Linked DNA regions of Homo sapiens. The protein of the gene in region 1 purifies or fractionates together with the protein of each later gene. This does not show direct contact. Each region holds a gene or a part of one and is shown in the gene's direction. Other genes may lie near its edges. The genes, in order: SLC15A1, BDH1 and TAMM41.

Region 1 (3,651 bases):
ATGATAGACTAAAGAAAATGTGGTACATATACACCACGGAATACTACGCAGCAATAAAAAAACAACAAGATCATGTCCTTTATAGGAACATGGATGGAGCCGGAGGCCATTATCCTCAGCAAACTAACAGGAACAGAAAATCAAACACTGCATTTTCCCACGTATAAGCAGCAGCGAAATGATGAGAACACAAAGACACAGAGGGGAACAACACATACTGGGGCCTACTTGAGGGTAGAGGGTAGGAGGAGAGAGCTGTTTGGAAAAAACCAACTATTAGGTATTAGGCTTAGTACCTAGGTGGAAAAATAATCTGAGCATCAAAACCCTGAGTCACGAGTTACCTATATAACAAACCTGCACATGTACCCCTAAAATCGAAGTTAAAATGGTAAATAAATAATGTTACAAGTTAAAAAAAAAACAAAAATACATCAAGACACCTAAACTCACATGGTGTACTTGTTTGCTATGGTGTCTGTAACAAAAGCACCACAAACTGGGGAATTTGAAACAACAGAAAAGTCTTCTCTCACAGTCCTGGAGGCTGGGAGCCCAGAGTCAAGGGGTCAGCAGGGCCACACTCCCTCCGAAGGCTCTGGGGGTGAAGCCGATCCAGGCCTTTCTCTTGCTTCTGGTGTGGCTGGTGGTCTTTGGCATTCCTTGGCTTGCGGACACACCCCTGCCGTCTCTGCCAGCCCATCTGTCTCTGTGTCACTTTTCCTCTTCTTAGGAGCACTCTACTCACATTGGATGAGGGACCGCCTTGTCCCAGTATGACCTGGTCTTAGCTAATTACAGCTGTAATGATCCTATTTCCAAATAAGGTCAAGTTCTGAGATTGAGAAGGATGTGAATTTGTGGGGGGATGGGCAGGACACTATTCGACACCCCGACATGGTAACAGAAAGTATTCTCTCTGAACTATGTCCATGGCTTATAGATGACTTTAGGTAGAAAACATTTGTAGTGTAAAGATAACTCCACCATGGTCCTCAGCTCGGATGCTATGTCTGGTGACCAGTTCCTTCCCCCAGCAAGACAGATGGGTTTTCTGGTCATAGTTTCTGGTCAACTGTAAACGGTCCACTTAGTAAGAGAGTTGGTACGTAGAAAACAGGCCCCAAAGTGATCTAGGAGACACAGGCGATTTACCTCTAGTTCTAAAAACGACGTTCCCATTCTGTTGATGCGGTACTGTGGACCTGCAGATAAAGTTTCCAGGCAGTCTTCATGTGCAGTGTTTCACTTTTCTGGTTTTTGAAAAATATAGCTGTTTCTGCTATGCATGCTAATTCTAAAATTAGAAGACTGAAAAAAATAAGTCACCTGACATTTTTATGGAGAATTGTTAGAGAATATCTAATGAAATTTAAAATACACACAATATTTTAACAGCATTCTATGTCTAGAACTTTCTTACAGATATTCTTATGATAGGAAAGAGCCATGTGCAACCCAAATATTAGGTTGGTGCAAAAGTAATTGCGGTTTTTGCCTTTTTTTTTTTTTTTTTTTTTTTTGAGATGGAATCTTGCTCTGTCGCCCAGGCTGGAGTGCAGTGGCGCGATCTCGGCTCACTGCAACCTCTGCCTCCCAGGTTCAAATGATTCTCCTGCCTCAGCCTCCCGAGTAGCTGGGATTACAGGCACATGCCACCACGCCCGGCTAATTTTTGTATCTTGTGTAGAGAGGGGGTTTTGCTACCTTGGCCAGGCTGATCTTGATTTCCTAACCTCATGATCTGCCCGCCTCGGCCTCCCAAAGTGCTGGGATTACAGGCGTGAGCCACCGCACCCGGCTTTGCCATTACTTTTAATCTATCATGTGGGCAGAAAACTTGCATTCTGTTTTATACCCTAACGTCATACTTAACCATGATTGTAAAGCATTTTTTTCTAGTCATGATTTACCATTAAAAAAAAAAAAAGTCTGTGTGTGTATAAGTTAGGGTCTTCAACCTCATTGCCTTGAAAAACAACCCTCCAAAAGACCAAGAGATTGGTTCTTTTTTTTTTTTTTTTTTTTTTTGAGACAGAGTCTCACTCTGTCACCTAGGCTGGAGTGCAGTGACACAATCACAGGTCACTGCAGCCTTGACCTCCCTGGCTTAAGCAATCCTCCTGCCTGAGCCTCCCAAGTAGCTGGGACTACAGGCACGTGCCACTATGCCTGGCTAATTTTTGTTATTTTTTGTAGAGGTGGGGTCTTGCCACATTGCCCAGGCTTGTTTCCTTTTAATTTAGCGACATTTATGTATCTTTAGAGTCATTTTCTCCTGTGACAATATACAATATTATTAGGGCCACCGTTTCTGTTGCCTGCTGGGTGTGGGGAGCTGATGCTGTCCCGGAGGCTGGTATCTGCTTCCCTTTGTGTTCTCTCCTCTTTTCTCCTTCTAGAGTCTGCTCTGAGGAAGGGTCTCTCTTCTCTTTAACCTGAGCATATATTTGTTTATTTACCCTCGGCAGTCTGGCATTTAAAGAGAGTCTCACTCTTAGTTCTGAAGGAAAGGTGTTCTTCTAGACTAAAAATATCCAGGTGTAGATCAGGAAGCTAACTTGGAGAGCAAGGGTTGCTGTACTAACAGCCAGGAAAATCATCTCACCTGACTACCCGGCCTCTACCTGAGGCAGGACTTAGGACTGTCCTGAGATCTTTCCTGTTTTGCCAAACAGCTTTGCTGCATGTGAACCCTGGAGCACTCTGTGGTCTGGCTCACCTTTCCCTGAAGCTGAGAGCAGGTTGGAAATCAACTGTCTGTCAGCATGTCCAAAGGTGGCTGGATCCTGGGTCCCAGAGAGATCATTTCTTCCTGAAGGAGGACAGGAATGGCGTTCAAAGATTCATGCCTGTAGTTACAGGAACAAGATGCTGAAAGTTGTAGGTAATTTATAAAACCACGAGAGGTTGGTCATTTCAGGCCTCTTCAGCCTATGATTTTAGATAGTTGTGTGTGGAAACCTTTTTAAAAGCTAGGAGGATATCTGAACCTAAATCAGTAAGTTGTGACTATTGTGGGCAAATTATTTATCCCCCAAAATGCATATGTTGAAGCCCAAAGCCCCAATACCTTGGAGCGTGACCTTATTTGGGAATAGAGTCGTTGCAGATGTAATTCACTATGATGACGTCATACCAGGGTAGGGTGGCCCCTAATTCAATATGAGCAGTGTCCTCACAAAAAGAGGAAATCTGGACTGGACATGGTGGCTCGTGCCCGTAATCTCAGCACTTTGGGAGGCCCAGGTGGGAGGATCACTTGAGACAAGAAGTTTGAGACCAGCCTGGGTAACATAGCAGACCTTGTCTCTACAAAAATTTTAAAACTTAGCCGACATGGCTGCACACGCCTGTGGTCCCAGCTGCCCAAGAGGCTCAGGCGGGAGGATCCCTTGAGCCCAGGAGTTCAAGGCTGCAGTGAGCTATGATCGTGCCACTGCACTGCAGCCTGGGCAACAGAGTGAGACCTTATCTCAAAAATAGCAACAATAATAAAAATGAGTAAAAAGAGGAGATTTGGACATAGACTCATACACAGGGCAAGCGCCACGTGAGTATGGTGGCAGAGGTGGAGGTGATGTTCTTACAAGACGGGGAACACCAAAGCTGGGCCTCAAAGCACCAGGAGACAGGCCCAGGACAGATTCT
Region 2 (3,651 bases), on another chromosome or scaffold:
CCACTTGGGAGTGGCAAGGGCCCATGTAGGCTTCATGTCCAGAAACACCTGAGTTCTCTTTCCTGCCTTGTGTGACCCGGTTTGCTGCGGATACCTTGCCTCTGCTGAGAATGTTAGTACTGGGAATGCCTGCCCCTTTGAGGGGAGCCCCTGCTGCTGCCTCACAGGAAAGCCCCCAGCTGTGACCTCTGCAAGATGGTCATGTTGGAATGGAACACAGTGAGCCCAGCAGTGAGGAAGGATGCGCACGCTGTTTTCTTTTTTTCTGGAGTAGGAGTGCTTTCCATGTGTTATACCTTGACAGTGGAGCGGGCCCTTGAGAGAAGCCCCAAGTGTTTCTAGCATTAAAAAATGTCTCCAAGATTCCAGGTTGATATGTGAGCATCGTGATTTTGTGACAGTATCTTATGAGTTTGGTCCCTGGGAGTCAAGCCCCCTGTGCTCAGTCACCTCAGGGCAACTAATTACTTGACTTTCAAGGCTGAGGAGACTGAGCACCCGCCTCCCACAGCCATTTCTGTTCCCAAACTAAAAGGCAAGAAAGTGGTGTGTGAAGTTTGAGAACTTAATATTTACAGAGAATAAGGCCTGGCACAAAACATGAAGATGGCAGACAGCTACCCTGAAGAGTCTTTGGGAGCCCTGCAGTGGAAATAGCTGCATGTTTAAGAAACACGCATGCAACAGACTACATTGAGAACAGTGCATTGTTCAAGGGACTGAGTTTTTTGTGTTTTTTTTGTTTTTTTTTGTTATTTTTGTTTTTGAGACGGAGCCTTGCTCTGTCACCCAGGCTGGAGTGCAGTGGCGTGATCTCAGCTCACTGCAACCTCCGCCTCCTGGGTTCAAGCGATTCTCCTGCCCCAGCCTCCCGAGTAGCTGGGACTGTGGGCGCCCGCCACCACGCCTGGCTATTTTTTGTATTTTTAGTAGAGACAGGGTTTCACCATGTCAGCCAGGCTGGTCTCGAACTCATGACCTCAGGTGATCCACCTGCCTCAGCCTCCCAAAGTGCTGGGATTACAGGCGTGAGCCACCACGCCTGGCCAAGGGACTGAGTTTTTATGCACTTTTAATTATTTTGGCTTTAGTACTTTTAGATATGGCTGACTTCAAGGAAAACAAAATGGAAAGCAGCTGTCTATTTGGAGATCATATTAAAGCATTTTCTGCCACAGGCATTGAGCTAAGGGGTGGAAAGGACTTTAATTATAGATGACTGGATGGGAAGTTTCCCAGTGATGGTGACCTCAGACTCTGGTCCTGGGTCTTGGAGGGAGGAGGTAGAGATGTGTGTGCTTAGCCAGCTGGTCAGTACTTAGATGGTGGGAGGGGGTGCCTCATGAAAAAGTCTGAGCCAACGTGGGCCTGTGCCTTCCATAAAACCATAAAAAGCCAGTCTGGGCTCCATTCTGCTGCTCTCTGCAAGGAGCTTTCCATGGAAACTTCTTTTGTGGCCACAGGCCGACTTTCCACCCCCAGACTGCCCTGCGGGAGCCCGCTCAGCTCCCATCCACTCCCCAGGGACTCAGAGTGCCTCCTTTGCGTCAGGCTCGTTCTAGGCACTGAGGATTTGGTGGTGAACCAGGTGGAGAGGATTCCTGGTGTCACTGAGCTTAGGATCTAGTAGAAGATAAAGTAAATAAACATAATTTTGAATTAAGGTAGCTGCTATGAGAGTGATCTTACAGAGAGCAACCTGTGTGTTGAATGGGAGCCACTTTAGTGAGGGAGACAGAGGACTCAGCATCCAGGATGAGGGCAGAGCAGGAGCCGGTACTCTGAGGCAGGAACGCCCTCACGTGGGCAAGGAGTTCTTGGAGTCAGTGGTGGCTGCGACGCAGTGAGCAAAGAGGAGGGTGGCCCAGTGAGCTAGGGGCCTCCAGGGAGGGAGAGGCCAGCCCCCACGGGCATGGAAAGTTGGCTTTAAACACGGAAGTCGCATAGCTTGACCGGTGTTAAAAAGGTTTCTTGGGCTGCTGTGCTGAGAATGGGGGTGTGGCAAATAGGGGCAGGAGTACAAGCGAGAGTTTACTGTAGTTCTGGAAAGGTAACACCAGAGAGGTTTCTGCCTGCTTTCCTTTCCTGAGGATTAAACAGATTAAACGCCTCCACCTGCTTCCAGCAGAGTGCATGGCAGTGGTTGCTCAGTTAACACTGCTGACCTCTGGGCCCAGGTGGCTGGTTATCAGTAAGGTTTGGGGTGGCAGCAAACAGGCAGGGGAGGAGCCTCCCAGGCAGTACCTTATTACCAGGAACAGTATGACAGACTACAGCCAGGTAGGCAAAGGAGAGGCTGGAACCCATTTACCAGCCCGCCTTCCTTCCCTTAGGCCTGGAGGAATCACTATTAACAGAACAGGAGGGCAACGCATGCCCGTGCTGATCAGCGGTCAATAATGCTGAAGAGTCGTGGTGCCTAGCAGCCTTAAGGTGTTACCAAGAGATTCTTGTTGCAATAAGGTTGCTTTAACCTCAAATGGTGAGGGAGCGGGGAGGGTGTGTGTGTGTGTGTTAATTACAAGAGTCTCTTATTTGGCAGCTCCAAACTCTATGCTATAATGAATTACTGATTAATTCAGCCTCAGAGCCAGAGCCCCCTTGTTTGTTCGCATGGGGGAAAGAGGTGGACGGCTGAGTCAGATGCTATGTGGCATGAGGACAAGCTGCCTGCAGGGGCAGGTGGGCACCTCAGGAATGAAGGCTGATGCCCTGGGGCACCACAGGTGGGTGTTTCAGCAGGTTAGAGGAATAGGACTTACCGAGTCAGAATCCCTGAGGGGTTAGGTCCCCGAGTCTCCCAGTGGTTGGCGGGTTTGAGGATCACTGATCTGGGCCAACCTGCTCACATTATGAATGGGTGATGACTTGCCCAGGGTTGCCCAGTGTGTTTGGTGGCACAGCTAGAGCCAGAACCCAGGCTTCCAGGCACCCTGGCTCCTGACTCTTTCCATTGTGAAGCTGCAGCTTGAGAGAGGAACCAGAGTGGACTACCTGGTGGTACCAGGACTGGAGCTGGGTGGAACAGATGCAGCCCAGTTTGACTTTCACAACCTGAAAGGAACATGACTGCTCCTGATTAAAGCCCGGAAGGCAACAAAGTAATGCTGAGGGTGCATTTATGTTTCAGAACCACCGGGAGGAACTGGGCCATTCTAACACCCGTTGCTACCATGCTGGCCACCCGCCTCTCCAGACCCCTGTCACGGCTCCCAGGAAAAACCCTAAGTGCCTGTGATAGAGAAAATGGAGCAAGGTAAGCAACCAGAGGTGGTGGTGGCCTTGAGGGGACACTTTCTGAGCAGGCAGAGGTTTTCACACATGGACAGTGTAGGCGGTGATGAGGCCTGATTCTCAGAGATGTCTCTCAATACCTTTGTCTCCCAGCAGAGGAAACTCAGAGGTGTCCTGGGAAGACATTTTCCCAGGGCACACAGGGCAGAAAGGAATATCTTTCATAACCACTTATTTTTTTTTCTTTTTGATGGAGTCTCACTCTGTTGCCAGGCTGGAGTGCAGTGGCGTGATCTCGGCTCACTGCCACCTCCGCCTCCTGGGTTCAAGTGATTCTCCCACGTCAGCCTCCTGAGTAGCTGGGATTACAGGCACCTGCCACCATGCCCAGCTAATTTTTATATTTTTAGTAGAGAC
Region 3 (3,651 bases), on another chromosome or scaffold:
GTCCCTGGGAATGACGATAAGCAAGGTCACTTCTCTTTCTACCCTTGGTCCCCAGGCCCATGTCTTCTGCCAGTTGGGAATATAGTACAGCGTAATGGTGATTGATTCAGGATGTGTAGCACAACTCATCCTCGCAGGACAGTGTCTTCAGGCTGTGCCACTGCTCTGAGTTGACACATAAAATTATCTGCCTTACCCTTGCATCTTTTAGGTCTACAGGTGGTGCTCATCTCTGCCATTCGTCCTGGGATATGGTTTTATTTTTTCTTTACTCTTTTGGCCAGGGGGAGAGAATGGCAGCTTCATGCCTTTAATCCCAGCACTTTGGGAGGCTGAGGTGGGTGGATCAGTTGAGGCCAGGAGTTCAAAACTAGCCTGGCCAACATGGTGAAACCCCATCTCTACTAAAAATACAAAAATTAGCCAGGCATGGTGGTGTGCGCCTGTAATCCCAGCTACTCGGGAGGCTGAGGCATGAGAATCACTTGAGCCTAGGAGATGGAGGTTGCAGCGAGCTGAGATCGCGCCACTGCACTCCAGCCTGGGCAACAGAGCGAGACTCTGTCTCAAAAATAATAATAACAAAATATTAGCTTTATTGATGAATACCTCATACACCATAAAAGCTAGTGTTTATAGTATAGTCACAGAGCTGCACAGCCATCACCACAATGTAATTTTAGAATATTTCTGTCACTCCATACCCTTTAGCCGTCCCCAGCTCTCCCCTCACCCAGGCAACCACTAATCCACTTCTGTCTCTGTAATTTTTCTGTTCTGGACAGTTCATATGCATGGAATCATATAAAGTTTTTTCCATATCTGCTTTTTTCTTAAGTTGACATATAATAATTGTATCCATGTCCGCTTTTAAAATGCAATTTGACTTTCACAGTTTAGCTGAATGCTTTCACTTTCGTTATTTTAATGAGAGTTAGTGTAAGGAAAATGAGAATTTACCAAATTTTTAAATCATGTCACCTGGTATTTTATCTTTACACTCATGCTTTCAAGTGAAAATTCCAGTGCATTATTTTCCTCAAGAGAAAGCAGTGGCAGATAAGTACTTTCTAATTTTTTTATATGTCACTCAAGCCGTTGGAAGCTTCATAGGTAAAGCATAACTTAAATATAAGTTTATTCTAACTAATCCCAATATGTGGCCTCAAAACATAAGTCCATAAATGTCATTTCTAAGATTATTTTACATAAATACTCAAATTTGTTGTCATTTTTGTAGCCAAAGCTAAGTAGAGGATGGGGCCTGTGAATTTAGAACCATCCTAGTGATAAATATCAAATATTTAGATAAAAACCTAAATATTTACCCCTCTAGCTTTATGGAGCCATTAAATAATAACATTTTTCTCCTTCTCTTCATAGAGTTTATAGACAAAACTAGAAAATTCAGGTATTTGGTATATACTTTTTTGTTTTTTTTGATACCATCTTGGTCTTGTCACCCAGGCTGTAGTGCAGTGGCACAATCACCACTCATCGTAGCCTCAACTTCCCAGGCTCAAGTGATCCTCCCACCTCAGCCTCCCAAGTAGACAGAACTGTAGGCTTGCACCACCATGTCTGGCTTTTTTTTGTTTTCTTTTTTTTTTTCGTAGAGCCGGATATCTCACTCTTTTGCTAGGGCTGATGTTGAATTTTTGTGCTCAAGCAATTCTCCTGCCTCAGCCTCCCAAACTGTTGGGATTACAGGTGTGAACCTGTGCTCCTGGCCCATTTGGTATGTACTTAATAAATATTTATTCAATTTAAAAAATGGTAGAATGAGTGGATTCTAATTATTAAGAAAGTTCGTCCTATCTGTAAACTCTAAGCCTAAAATGTAATACATTGATCTGATTTTTTCTTACTCTTCTCTTAGTTGAAGTTAAAACCTAAATATTTGTTAAAAGGATACAAGACAGATTCTTCCTTGGGAAATAATGTGATGGGCTGTTGAGGGCAGTGTTACTGGTTCTGCACTTGGCAGGAAATCAATGTTTACAAGATTTTTAAAAATTCATTCCACGAGGCACAGTGTATGAAACTTGGAGTTAGGAAAGCTAGGTCTGGCCTCAGCTCTGTGGCTAACTTTTGATTCAAGGGTTTCTGAGTAAAGTCTGACACATAGTTTTACATGTTTTATTTATATATTTATCTTCAGCACCTTAGTATGTTTTAGAATACTTTGGGAACCGAAGCCGCTGGCATAGTAGCTTTAGGACAACTAAGTTGTATTGATTCAGTTACTCATTTCCTTATTGTTTTTTGAGTACCTACTGTGTGCTGGGGATTAAAAGTAAGTAAGATTAGTTTCTGTCATCAGTGTATTCCTACAGTTTGTGAAATACAGCATACTAAAAGGCCCTACAGGCAGGAGACACAATTCAGATCCCACTTACTCTCATTGGTGATGTGATCAGGGCACGCCAGTCTCCCTGTGTTTGAAATGGGAGGGGTCATCTCAGTGCCTGGATTTGACGCGGCCTCCACGAGTGTCAACTGCAGCACCACTTCCTTTGACTGCTGGATTTAAGACAAATATAAATTTTAAAACCAAAAGTCAGAAATTGATCCTTGAGAGTGGCTTCTATTCTTTTCTCAGGTAGAAATGGAATATTATAGGACAAGAATTGTCCTTTTTGAAGGGACTTAGACTCCTGAACACTTACCCATTCAGTTTCAGAAAAAGAGAGTTTCCTTAGCTTGCTGCCTCGCCAGGGGTGTGGGTGCATATATGTTTGTGTGATTTTTAAAGAGAAGCCCTGAGTTTTGGAGTATTTGTAGGATTTAAAGCACTTCCATAGACGTCGTCTTTTTTTTCCTCCCTTCAGATAGATAAAAGCCCAGAAGGACAGTTCACTCAGCTGATGACATTGCCCAAAACCTTACAGCAACAGATAAATCATATTATGGACCCTCCTGGAAAAAACAGAGATGTGGAAGAAACTTTATTCCAAGTGGCTCATGATCCCGACTGTGGAGATGTGGTGCGACTAGGTACGTTTATGAATTTGATGTTGAGGAAATGCCAGCCATGGGGAAAAGCAGACTTTGTTTGTGATTGGAATGTATTATTTCTTCCTTTTTGTTTAGCGAGATAGAGAGATTGCCTCTCAGAAGAAGAAAGCACTAAAAATTTGAGGGTTTTCTAAATCTGCATTTTTATTTGTTTGAAGTAAGATGGTGAAAATACTTCTGTTTTTAAATTCCTGGATCCTAAATCACTGTCAAAGGGAGAAACAATGTTTCTTTTGGTTCCTAGAGCACAACTTCTAGAATTTATTTAAAAGATGTGTCTGTGTTTTGTGGTGGTCTGAGAAAAGAGATTGGTGGCATTTTTTTGTGCTTTTATAACATCGAGAACACAGCTTTCCTCAATCAACTCCATTTGATGTGTCTCATACATTGTTGAGTACATTCCCTCAGACATGGCCCACGTTCCACAGCATTTTCCCCAGCACTGCCCTGATGTTTATCCAAAACTCTGAACCCAGGCCAGGTGCAGTGGCTCACGCCTGTACTCCCAACACTTTAGGAAGTCCAGGAGGGAGAATCACTTGAGGCCAGGAGTTTGAGACCAGCTTGGGCAACAGAGCAAGACCCTGTCTCTGCAAAAATTACAAAAGTAGCTGGGCATGGTGGCACATGCCT

What was found.
Region 2: the proteins of SLC15A1 (region 1) and BDH1 purify together in Homo sapiens (affinity purification with mass spectrometry; 2 studies listed by BioGRID and IntAct, with this or other methods). This does not show direct contact.
Region 3: the proteins of SLC15A1 (region 1) and TAMM41 purify together in Homo sapiens (affinity purification with mass spectrometry; 2 studies listed by BioGRID and IntAct, with this or other methods). This does not show direct contact.

Annotation. Positions count from the first base shown.
Region 1 is NC_000013.11:98,742,621-98,746,271, reverse strand, and holds part of SLC15A1 (solute carrier family 15 member 1), read left to right. Parts: intron 1-3,651. UniProt on the Homo sapiens protein: Electrogenic proton-coupled amino-acid transporter that transports oligopeptides of 2 to 4 amino acids with a preference for dipeptides. Transports neutral and monovalently charged peptides with a proton to peptide stoichiometry of 1:1 or 2:1.
Region 2 is NC_000003.12:197,545,966-197,549,616, reverse strand, and holds part of BDH1 (D-beta-hydroxybutyrate dehydrogenase, mitochondrial precursor), read left to right. Parts: intron 1-3,130; 5' UTR 3,131-3,173; coding exon 3,174-3,256; intron 3,257-3,651.
Region 3 is NC_000003.12:11,808,863-11,812,513, reverse strand, and holds part of TAMM41 (phosphatidate cytidylyltransferase, mitochondrial isoform a precursor), read left to right. Parts: intron 1-1,616; coding exon of another isoform or gene 1,617-1,738; intron 1,739-2,831; coding exon 2,832-2,997; exon of another isoform or gene 2,998-3,651. UniProt on the Homo sapiens protein: Catalyzes the conversion of phosphatidic acid (PA) to CDP-diacylglycerol (CDP-DAG), an essential intermediate in the synthesis of phosphatidylglycerol, cardiolipin and phosphatidylinositol.